2 separate regions of the Homo sapiens genome follow, and region 1 is linked to region 2. Evidence: fine-mapped expression QTL. A gene starts in region 2. The other region holds a variant in brackets. All regions are shown on one strand. Distances are from middle to middle.

Evidence for each region. PIP is the estimated chance that this variant, and not a neighbour inherited with it, causes the effect.
Region 1: its variant is the best candidate, but not a certain one, in a credible set for the expression of C6 in esophagus mucosa (GTEx, PIP 0.77).

Annotation. Positions count from the first base shown.
Region 1 is chr5:41,260,516-41,265,031 of GRCh38, reverse strand. It overlaps a transcript of C6 not described here. Among named protein-coding and RNA genes, the nearest start is that of C6, 49 kb to the right of the region's middle. The variant C/T (reference allele first, on the strand shown) is at 2,444.
Region 2 is chr5:41,211,627-41,215,626 of GRCh38, reverse strand. C6 (complement C6) reads left to right here and starts at 2,095. Exons shown (of 18, transcript NM_000065.5): 1 at 2,095-2,251.

The sequences.
Region 1 (4,516 bases), 49 kb before region 2:
TTTTGACCTAATCATGAAGAAAACATCTACACGTTTTAAAAAATATCCTGATTCTGACACTTAGACACAAATGCTCTTGGATGAAACCTGGCCATTGGGGCACAAACCCCTGAAGCTCTCACTCACTCTTGTCGGTGAGATTTGCCAAGATTTCCCTCTGTTACTAATGTAGCCTAAAGTCATATCTTTAAGTCAGCTTTTAAAAAATTAAGCAAAAGGCTAGCCTAAAGAACATAGGCAAACAGAGGTCAGACTTATCCTTTCGGCAGGCTGAGAAATCTCCATTTGGTTGTGGAAGCAGGCTTAATGGAAAGATAGCCATTAATAAATAAACCCGACATTGCAGTTTGGCCAGAGGAAGCAATATAGGCACCAGCACACTAGCCAACTTTTAGACCTTACTAGGACAGAATTACACATGTTCTAATGACTTGTTTTGGTTGAACCTATGATAGGCACTTCCTGAGAAAGAATTTCAGAGTCTGTGCCCCTGAACCATCAATTTCATCCTGCTTTTTGGCTTTATCTAGGAGCCTGAAGTTTACTGTAACATCTTGGTTGCATCCTACTCTTCCACAGTAACATGAGGAAAGAAAGAACTATCCCAATCTCTAGGTTTTAGGAGATAAATAACATAGAACAGTCTCTTGGCTCTTTCTTTAAATAACTTTTCTTCCTGGCTCCAACTCCAATCCCATCCCCTCAATGCCTGCCCAGGGAAGTCAGGACCACGTCACTCTGGGTCCTGTCTTCTGTCCACTACCCTCTTCAAGGTATACATGGATACTATGAAAAGCTTTGAATGCTGTTCTTTTTCTATTATCTCATCCGTAGCACAGCTGTGATATCTCATTGGACTCTGGCCTAATGGTTTTTATGGAGTCAGATAACTATTCACGGGACTTATCTTCATTGAACACATGCTGGGGAGAAAAATAATAGCAGGATACAGGAAACATTATCTGCTTCAGATTCAAAAATTGGCTTCCAACTATTTGATTCTGGTTCATGTTATGAAAGAGGAATAAATAGTTTGCTTTCTGTTGCTATTAATGCTTTTGCTGAACCCTATCCCATAACTTAACAATCATACATCAGAAAAAGCAGGTATTTCATGCTACTTATGGGTGATGGGAACCATCTATTAATATACTGCATCCGTTGGTCCTTATTGAGACCAATGGCACCTATTTCTGCCATAATATTGAGGGAAGAGAGTACAGTCTATATTTGAGTTAAGTGTTCTGGTTCCAGTGACCTCTATGAAAACATAAGGATGTTACCCAGACGGAGAGACACACACACCAACCTATTGATGCTCCCAAAGAGTACTTTAACAGGTTTTGTTAATATTGGGTAGCCTGAATCTAAAGCCATAAAGAGAAGCAAGATTGTCTGACAGAGGAGGAAACCAGGAAAGATTTCTAAGCAGGTCAGATCTTGTATGTTGTAAAAATAAGGACACTATACACTCAGCAGCTGTCATACATACTCTGAGTACTAAGGCGATGTTTACAGAGAAACAACTGAGAGGTCTAGGAGGAGGGGAACTCTAGGCAAAGTTGAGAGTGATGGTGGTGAGGAGAGATAAGGTAAGACGGGACCAAAAGCAAATCTTGGCTGAAGCATAACCTTGTCTGACCTTGAATTTTGAGGAAATCAAATGACCTTAGGAAGGAGTAGACATTGTTCAAATAAATTACGTGAAATTTGTATTTACAGTTTTTTAAAAAGTCAAATAATCTTAAAAACAGCAAATATCTTTCACCCAATCTACCTTAAGTTTTGATTCATCCTTCTCACATGGAACAGTGAACTATCTATCAGCCTATAAACTACCTGCACGTGGTCACTTGTTCTATTGGTCACTGCAAAAACTGTAAATGTTGGGGAACAAATTCCATGAGATGGCCATGGCTTATTTCCAAGTTTGGTCACTTTACACCCTTGTAAATGACATCATGTTTCAATTCAATCCCAAAAACAAAGACAAAAAATTACCCAGTCATATACTTATGTTATAATAGCTTTCTTCCTTAGGTCGTAGTGAAGAAAAGATGAAAACACTTCAGCCAAAATAAAAAAATAAAACTAGTTATTTTACCACCTGATCTATGAGTAAAGAATCAAGTACGTTGAAAATCCCTCCGTTTGAAGGAATGCTTTTCAGATAGTGGGTAAAACTAATTTGTTTTGCAGCCTTCACCTTGTACTGGATATTCAAACATATTACCTAGTTAATTAAATCTCTTCATAATATGATAATGCTTGTTTGCACACTGACTCCAAACAGCAGTCACGTATGAAGTTTGTCATAACCAAATGGATTACAGAACACAGAAAAGCAAAATTTCTAATAATCTCAATTTTTCTAAATCAAAGAATGCCTCTCCATGTTTTCTAAGAATGGAAACAAAAGAAAAGGTTGAATTTCACCCCAAAA[C/T]TGGGAAGTCAGTTACACAAGCCCTATCCATACAGATATACACAGTCTTAAAAATGAGACTTTTAAGATATCTTTTGAGTTATCCCAGAAGACACAAACTTCCTGCTCACTATGCACACCTAGAGGACCTCAAAGAGGAAGAAATAGCGAAATAAAAAGTCCTTTCTATGGAGGTAGGAAGGAGGAAGCAGCATTTACAATAAAAAGGCACAATGGTTTCAGGTGTTAAATTCCTCCTTGATCCTCATACTACAATACAAATCTGAGCTTTTGCTCCATTTTAAATTACTTCAAGCAGTGCCTACCATCCTGGAGTGTGACTGTAGCCTTTACCAATTGTTTGCTATAATTTTATCTGTCTTTATTTTATCTTTTTATTTTCCCTCTCCTCCCTGCCCACCTTAATTCTCAATTCCAGTTTTGTAGAACATACTTTAGGAAAAGTGGATTTTGAGAGTAAAGAAGAAAGGAAAGAAAGAAGGAAAGAAGGGAAAGAGACAGAAAAAGAAAGAAAAAGAAGAAAGAAGAAAAAAGAAAAAAGAGAAAGAATTTTCTTGCTCACTTATATATATACAGGATATTTTGTTTTGCCAGCAGTTTATCCTCCAAAGGAGTGTGTCTTGCTTATTATATAATTCAGTATATTTTATTCAACAGAATGTTTTTTATTCATTTTCTATGTAATCTAAAAACCTGTCAAAAACATAGAATTTGAAAGTATTTCGAATGCAGAAAAAAATCACCGCATTCTGATGTAGTGACATTGCTATTTAAAAACGAAAATCAATCTCATTAAAAATGAAGTGAAAGATAATAATTTTGGATTGATAAGTGACAATTAAATAAGTTTTAAACTACTGTTTTTATTATTTGAAAATTTTAATTGTAAGATTTGTTTTTAAATATTTGAGATGCAACTCCAATCTTTCTGAATTTGCGATTTTTAAAAATTGGAATAGTTTTTGCAATGTTTAATTTGTGTAAAAAAGCACTAAAAGATAAAAATAAGCAGGAGATGGGGGTAGGAAGATAAAACAGAACAACACAGTTGTGTCTGGATTTGCATTGAGTCTCTGTTGCAATTTCTTTTAAAAAGGAAACTAAAATGTAGAGATTCTCAATCCGGTTTAGCATACATAGGAGTTTCTCCCTAAAATATACCCGTCTCTCTTAATTTTGTATGTCTTCAACATAACATTCATTAAATTTTATTCTGAAACTGAGTCTTAAAAACTGAAATACTTTTAAAGAGAGATGTTTCTAGCTTAAATATTTCATCATATAGTAAGATTCCTGCTGAGAGCTCATAATAAGAAATATGAAACCAGTTACTCTGGACTTGGATTTTGATGTGCTGAAGTATCTGCTGGTATTTCTTCAAGTCATAGATGCATAGTAAGTTTTCTACTTTTTTCTTCTTTTTTTTTAATTGGTGGGCATGCATATGAGGTTGGTGCTTCTTGAAATGGCTGGTTAAAAGATTTCCAGATGAAAGTTTACAAAGGCAGTAGTTCAGTTTTATAGAATATGGTTTTGGGTACATTTGCGATGGTGCTTTTTATAATATGTGATTGCTGTGTGACAATGTCTTTGTGAAGTCAATGGAGATTTCACATTTGGAAAACAAACCTTTGTGTAGTATCTTGTCATTACTAATTGAAGTGTAATTTTGTCAAATCTAACTTGTTCATGTTTTCATTTTCATTCATTCTGTTTCTCCTTACCCACAGTATCCATCTATAGGACTGGTGTGTTTAAGACTAGAGAAGTTGCAGGGGTTTTTTTGGTTTGTTTTTGTTTTGTTTTTTTTTTTGAGATGGAGTTTCACTCTTGTTGCCCAGGCTGGAGTGCAATGGCGCCATCTTGGCTTACTACAACCTCCACCTCCCAGGTTCAAGTGATTCTCCTGCCTCAGCCTCCTCAGTAGCTGGAATTTACAGGCATGAGCCACCATGCCCACCTAATTTTTTTTTGTATTTTTAGTAGAGATGGGGTTTCTCCGTGTTGGTCAGGCTGGTCTCGAACTCCCAACCTCAGGTGATACGACCGCCTCGGCCTCCCAAAGTGCTGGGA
Region 2 (4,000 bases):
ACCTTATGAAAATAGGAGATTTTGTGTGAGAAGGTCTTCTGTGTTACCAGCCAAAACTTCAGAAGGCCTGCAGTTGCTGAAGCAACTCAGCCAGTGCCAGTAAACTTCATAGCAGACTTTGTTTTTCAGCAGCACACATCTAAATATTGTTTAGAGAACACCTATATTCTTTGCATGCACAGAGTCAGACCTGAGCACAACTGCACACAAGTATTCAATTCCTAGCTCTGAAACAATCACCTACTCATCAGTCCCAATTAGCCTACTTCTACTTCCCAAAGCCACTGGACACTTTGTTGTATGTATCAGACCAGAAATATTTCTCTCTGGGTTGCAACTTTTCCTATAAGGGCCAGACGGTAAATATTTTAGGCTTTTCAGGCTGGAGAGCCTCTGTTGCCAGCTTCTTAACTCTACCATTGTAGCACAAAAGCAACCATAAACAATGGCCAATTGTGTGACTTTATTCCTATAAAACGTTATTTACAAAAACGGGCATCAGGCTAGTTTACCAATCCCTGCTCTAGAAAAAGGACTCATGAGTGAGATATGTCATTTAACCTTCCAAAAGAACCCAAGATGGAGAACCCAAATACATTGTTGAAAAGATTCTAGATTCTTAGTTGGTGCTGGGTCAATTCTAGTGTTTGGATCACAGACATTCGCATTCCATCTCAAGGATTTCCCCTTACCATCCTTAACTCTCTCCACCTGTGTTTTTCCAGTGCCACAGCATACAATCTTACTTCTCTGTCCTCTTCATAGCCCACATTACAAATAAAGTCCTCTTTAAGCTCATCCTACTGGCACCTAACTTTGCATCTCTCTGTATTATGACTTCCAGTATTTGCCTTTAGCTCCAAACACCTTGAACTCAGGACAAATGAATTTTATTTTAGGACCTCAAAGACCAATTAAAGAAAGAAATATGCAAATTAAATGACATATATTCTTGTCCAATCACCAAATATTTCTTTTCCTGTTTATCTTCTCAGGTAATCAAGGGTGAAGCTGCTATCCCAGCCCCAAACTAGCTTCAACACTGGTCTGCAGCACACCACTCTACTTTCTCTTTAGGCCCAAATTTCAATCTTTAAAATCTCAATGTAGTATAAGAGAGAGAAAAAAGACTGGAAATCAGATCATCTGTATTCCAGTTCTGACTTACTCTGGCCTTGGGAAAGTTACTACCATGTATATTAAACTATGTGACCTTTGAGTGGTGGGTTCCCAGCTGTGTTTCAAGTAATCTTTAGACTTGCTGAGATCATCATTTCCCACCATGTGATAAAAATCTAAGCTGTCTAAGGAATATTTGTTTTAGTTGTTTTCTACTGCTTTGAAAAAAGTTTGAAAAACACTTGTTTTACAAATGAGGGACCAGTGTTCCAATGAGGTATAGTGATTTATTGAAGCTCACATAGCTGGTAGCTGCTTAGTGCAGAAACAAGACTAGAATATGTATCCACATTCTCAGTCCCTATAGTTTTTTTTCTTTTCTATTGCACTATTTTGTTCTGCTTCACCTTAGGATGAAATCCATTTTACTTCAATCTAAAGTTAAATTGCAACCATTTCAGAGAAGCGTAATCATCATTACATATAAAGAGCCCATTTGATCATTGCTATTTTAATTCTTTCCAAATTAAATTTTCTGTTTGGTTTTGCTGGCATATAGAAACACTTTTTACTATAATAAACTTGTGTTGATAAATCATACTAAATTCATTTATTAATTCTAATGTTTGTAGATTCTTTTGAATTTTCTACATACACAATCACATTGTCTCCAAAAACATTTCTTAAATAGTTACCAATAACTATTCTATAATCAAAAACTAAGAATCTATACATTCCTAAGGGGGGCAGCAATTTTAAGCAATTAATCTAAAGGATTCTTTAAAATGGAAAGAGAGATTTCTATGCAGTAGCAATAGCTACTACAATAGCCCTTGAATTGAAAACTCACTGAAAATTCAGGACTCTGTGTAACATCCAACACCCAGAGTTTCAGGGTTACTACTGATTGGTGTAATCATTTGCAAAGTTCAAGTTCCAGAGAACATTTATTTTGACAACCCTCTAGGTGTTGCTAGGCTTCTGGGATATGACAGCATTGCCTTGTGTTAGCTAGCAATAAGAAAAGAAGCTTTGTTTGGATTAACATATATACCCTCTTCATTCTGCATACCTATTTTTTCCCCAATAATTTGCAGCTTAGGTCCGAGGACACCACAAACTCTGCTTAAAGGTGAGTAATATGATGATTTCATTTTCAATCTTAATATTTCAAAATTGTTAATCATGTTTCCAACAAAATTACAATTTCATGCATAAAAATATGTAACTCAGACTATAACCATTTCTTTGTCTTTCTTTTTTATAATTGCTTTGTTTAAATCTGAAAAGAACCAGAGGTCATGTTTTTTAAACAAATGTCATTCCAGAGGACATTTGAGATCAAGTTTCTCTATGAGTTAAATTAGTTAAAAGTAAAGCAAACATACTCTTTAGCCAAGGTCAGTCATGCACCTGGACTACCCAGCTTACCTTGGCGATAGTAAAGGTAGAAAGATAGAAAGGCTCATTTCTTGAGCCTCTGGGCATGCACAGAAAAAAATAATAAGAAATAAGAAATTCAGTAAGTTTACATGGAGATGTAAAGGAAGAACCTATAGCTGGGGATAAACTAGAGCATCCTCAGAAATCTGTTGGGTAAGATATGCTGAACTGCCTTGCAGACAAATGGTTCATGTGAGTAAAATACATTAGAAAGTGACAGGTTAGAATAAGATGGGCTTCATTTTAATTGAAATTCTCTAAATGCTCATAAAGCTATCATCAATGGTTCAATGGGATCACTGATTTTTGGAAAACTCAAGAGGGGATGGCAACTATGAGAAAACTGAAGAATTTCTGCTTTTCTACGATGGCACTGAAGTGGAAGACTTTTTTCCTATCTTCCTCTATTGACCGAACATTCTTTTATTCTATGTTTGTATGAAAATTGTACAGTAATGGGTAAAATGCCTGTGTGTAATTTTAGATACCTCCAGAATGCCTAGAGATGTGGAAATTAATAAATAAGAAACCATATAATACAATATGCTAGGCCATCATAACAAAAAAATTCAGAGAAGTAATTATTTTTATTTGATTAAAAATTGTTGCTGGGCTTGGTGGCTCACGCTTGTAATCCCAGCACTTTGGGAGGCCGAGGCAGGTGAATCACAAGGTCAGGAGTTCAAGACGAGCCTGACCAAAATGGTGAAACCCCGAGTTCACTAAAAATACAAAAATTAGCTGGGTGTGGTGGCAGGGGCCTGTAATCCCAGCTACTCGGGAGGCTGAGGCAGAGAATTGCTTGAACCCAGGAGGCTGAGTTTATAGTGAGCTGAGATCCTGCCACTGCAGTCCAGCCTGGGTGAAAGAATGAAACTCTGTCTCAAAAAAATAAATAAATAAAAATAAAATTGTTTTAACATAAAACAATTTGTATTCCTAATAATAGAATATTAAAAAAGAAAAGCTACCAATTAGCTCTTTCATTAGTACCTCATCAAATAAGTTTTAATGTTACCATCTTAATTTATATCAGGCTCCATATTGCCTCAGAACAGTTATAGCTTAAAGAGCGATCAGAATATTTTATAAGGGTTCTGTTTTTGCAGTTTTTGATGATAATTGGAATAAAACTCACCCATACCTTTCAAGCTTTTGGAAGTTAAAAGACAGTGTCTGCTGAGAACTGAGAATTAGTAATCTCTTGCAATTTAACTTCTCCAAATTATTTACATGAAAATTTCACCAGAAGCTTTAAGAATTTGTTTTCTCTACAATTGAGGAAATATTCTGGAAGATATCTGTCTTGTCCAACATCTAATAAGAAAAAAAAACAACAACAAAGTATCTATTTAGTTTTTCTTGCTGAAAAGGTCCCTGTATGAGAAAATTCCAATTTTGGCAGTGGGGGGCAAGGGTGAAGGGTATAGGGGAGTGG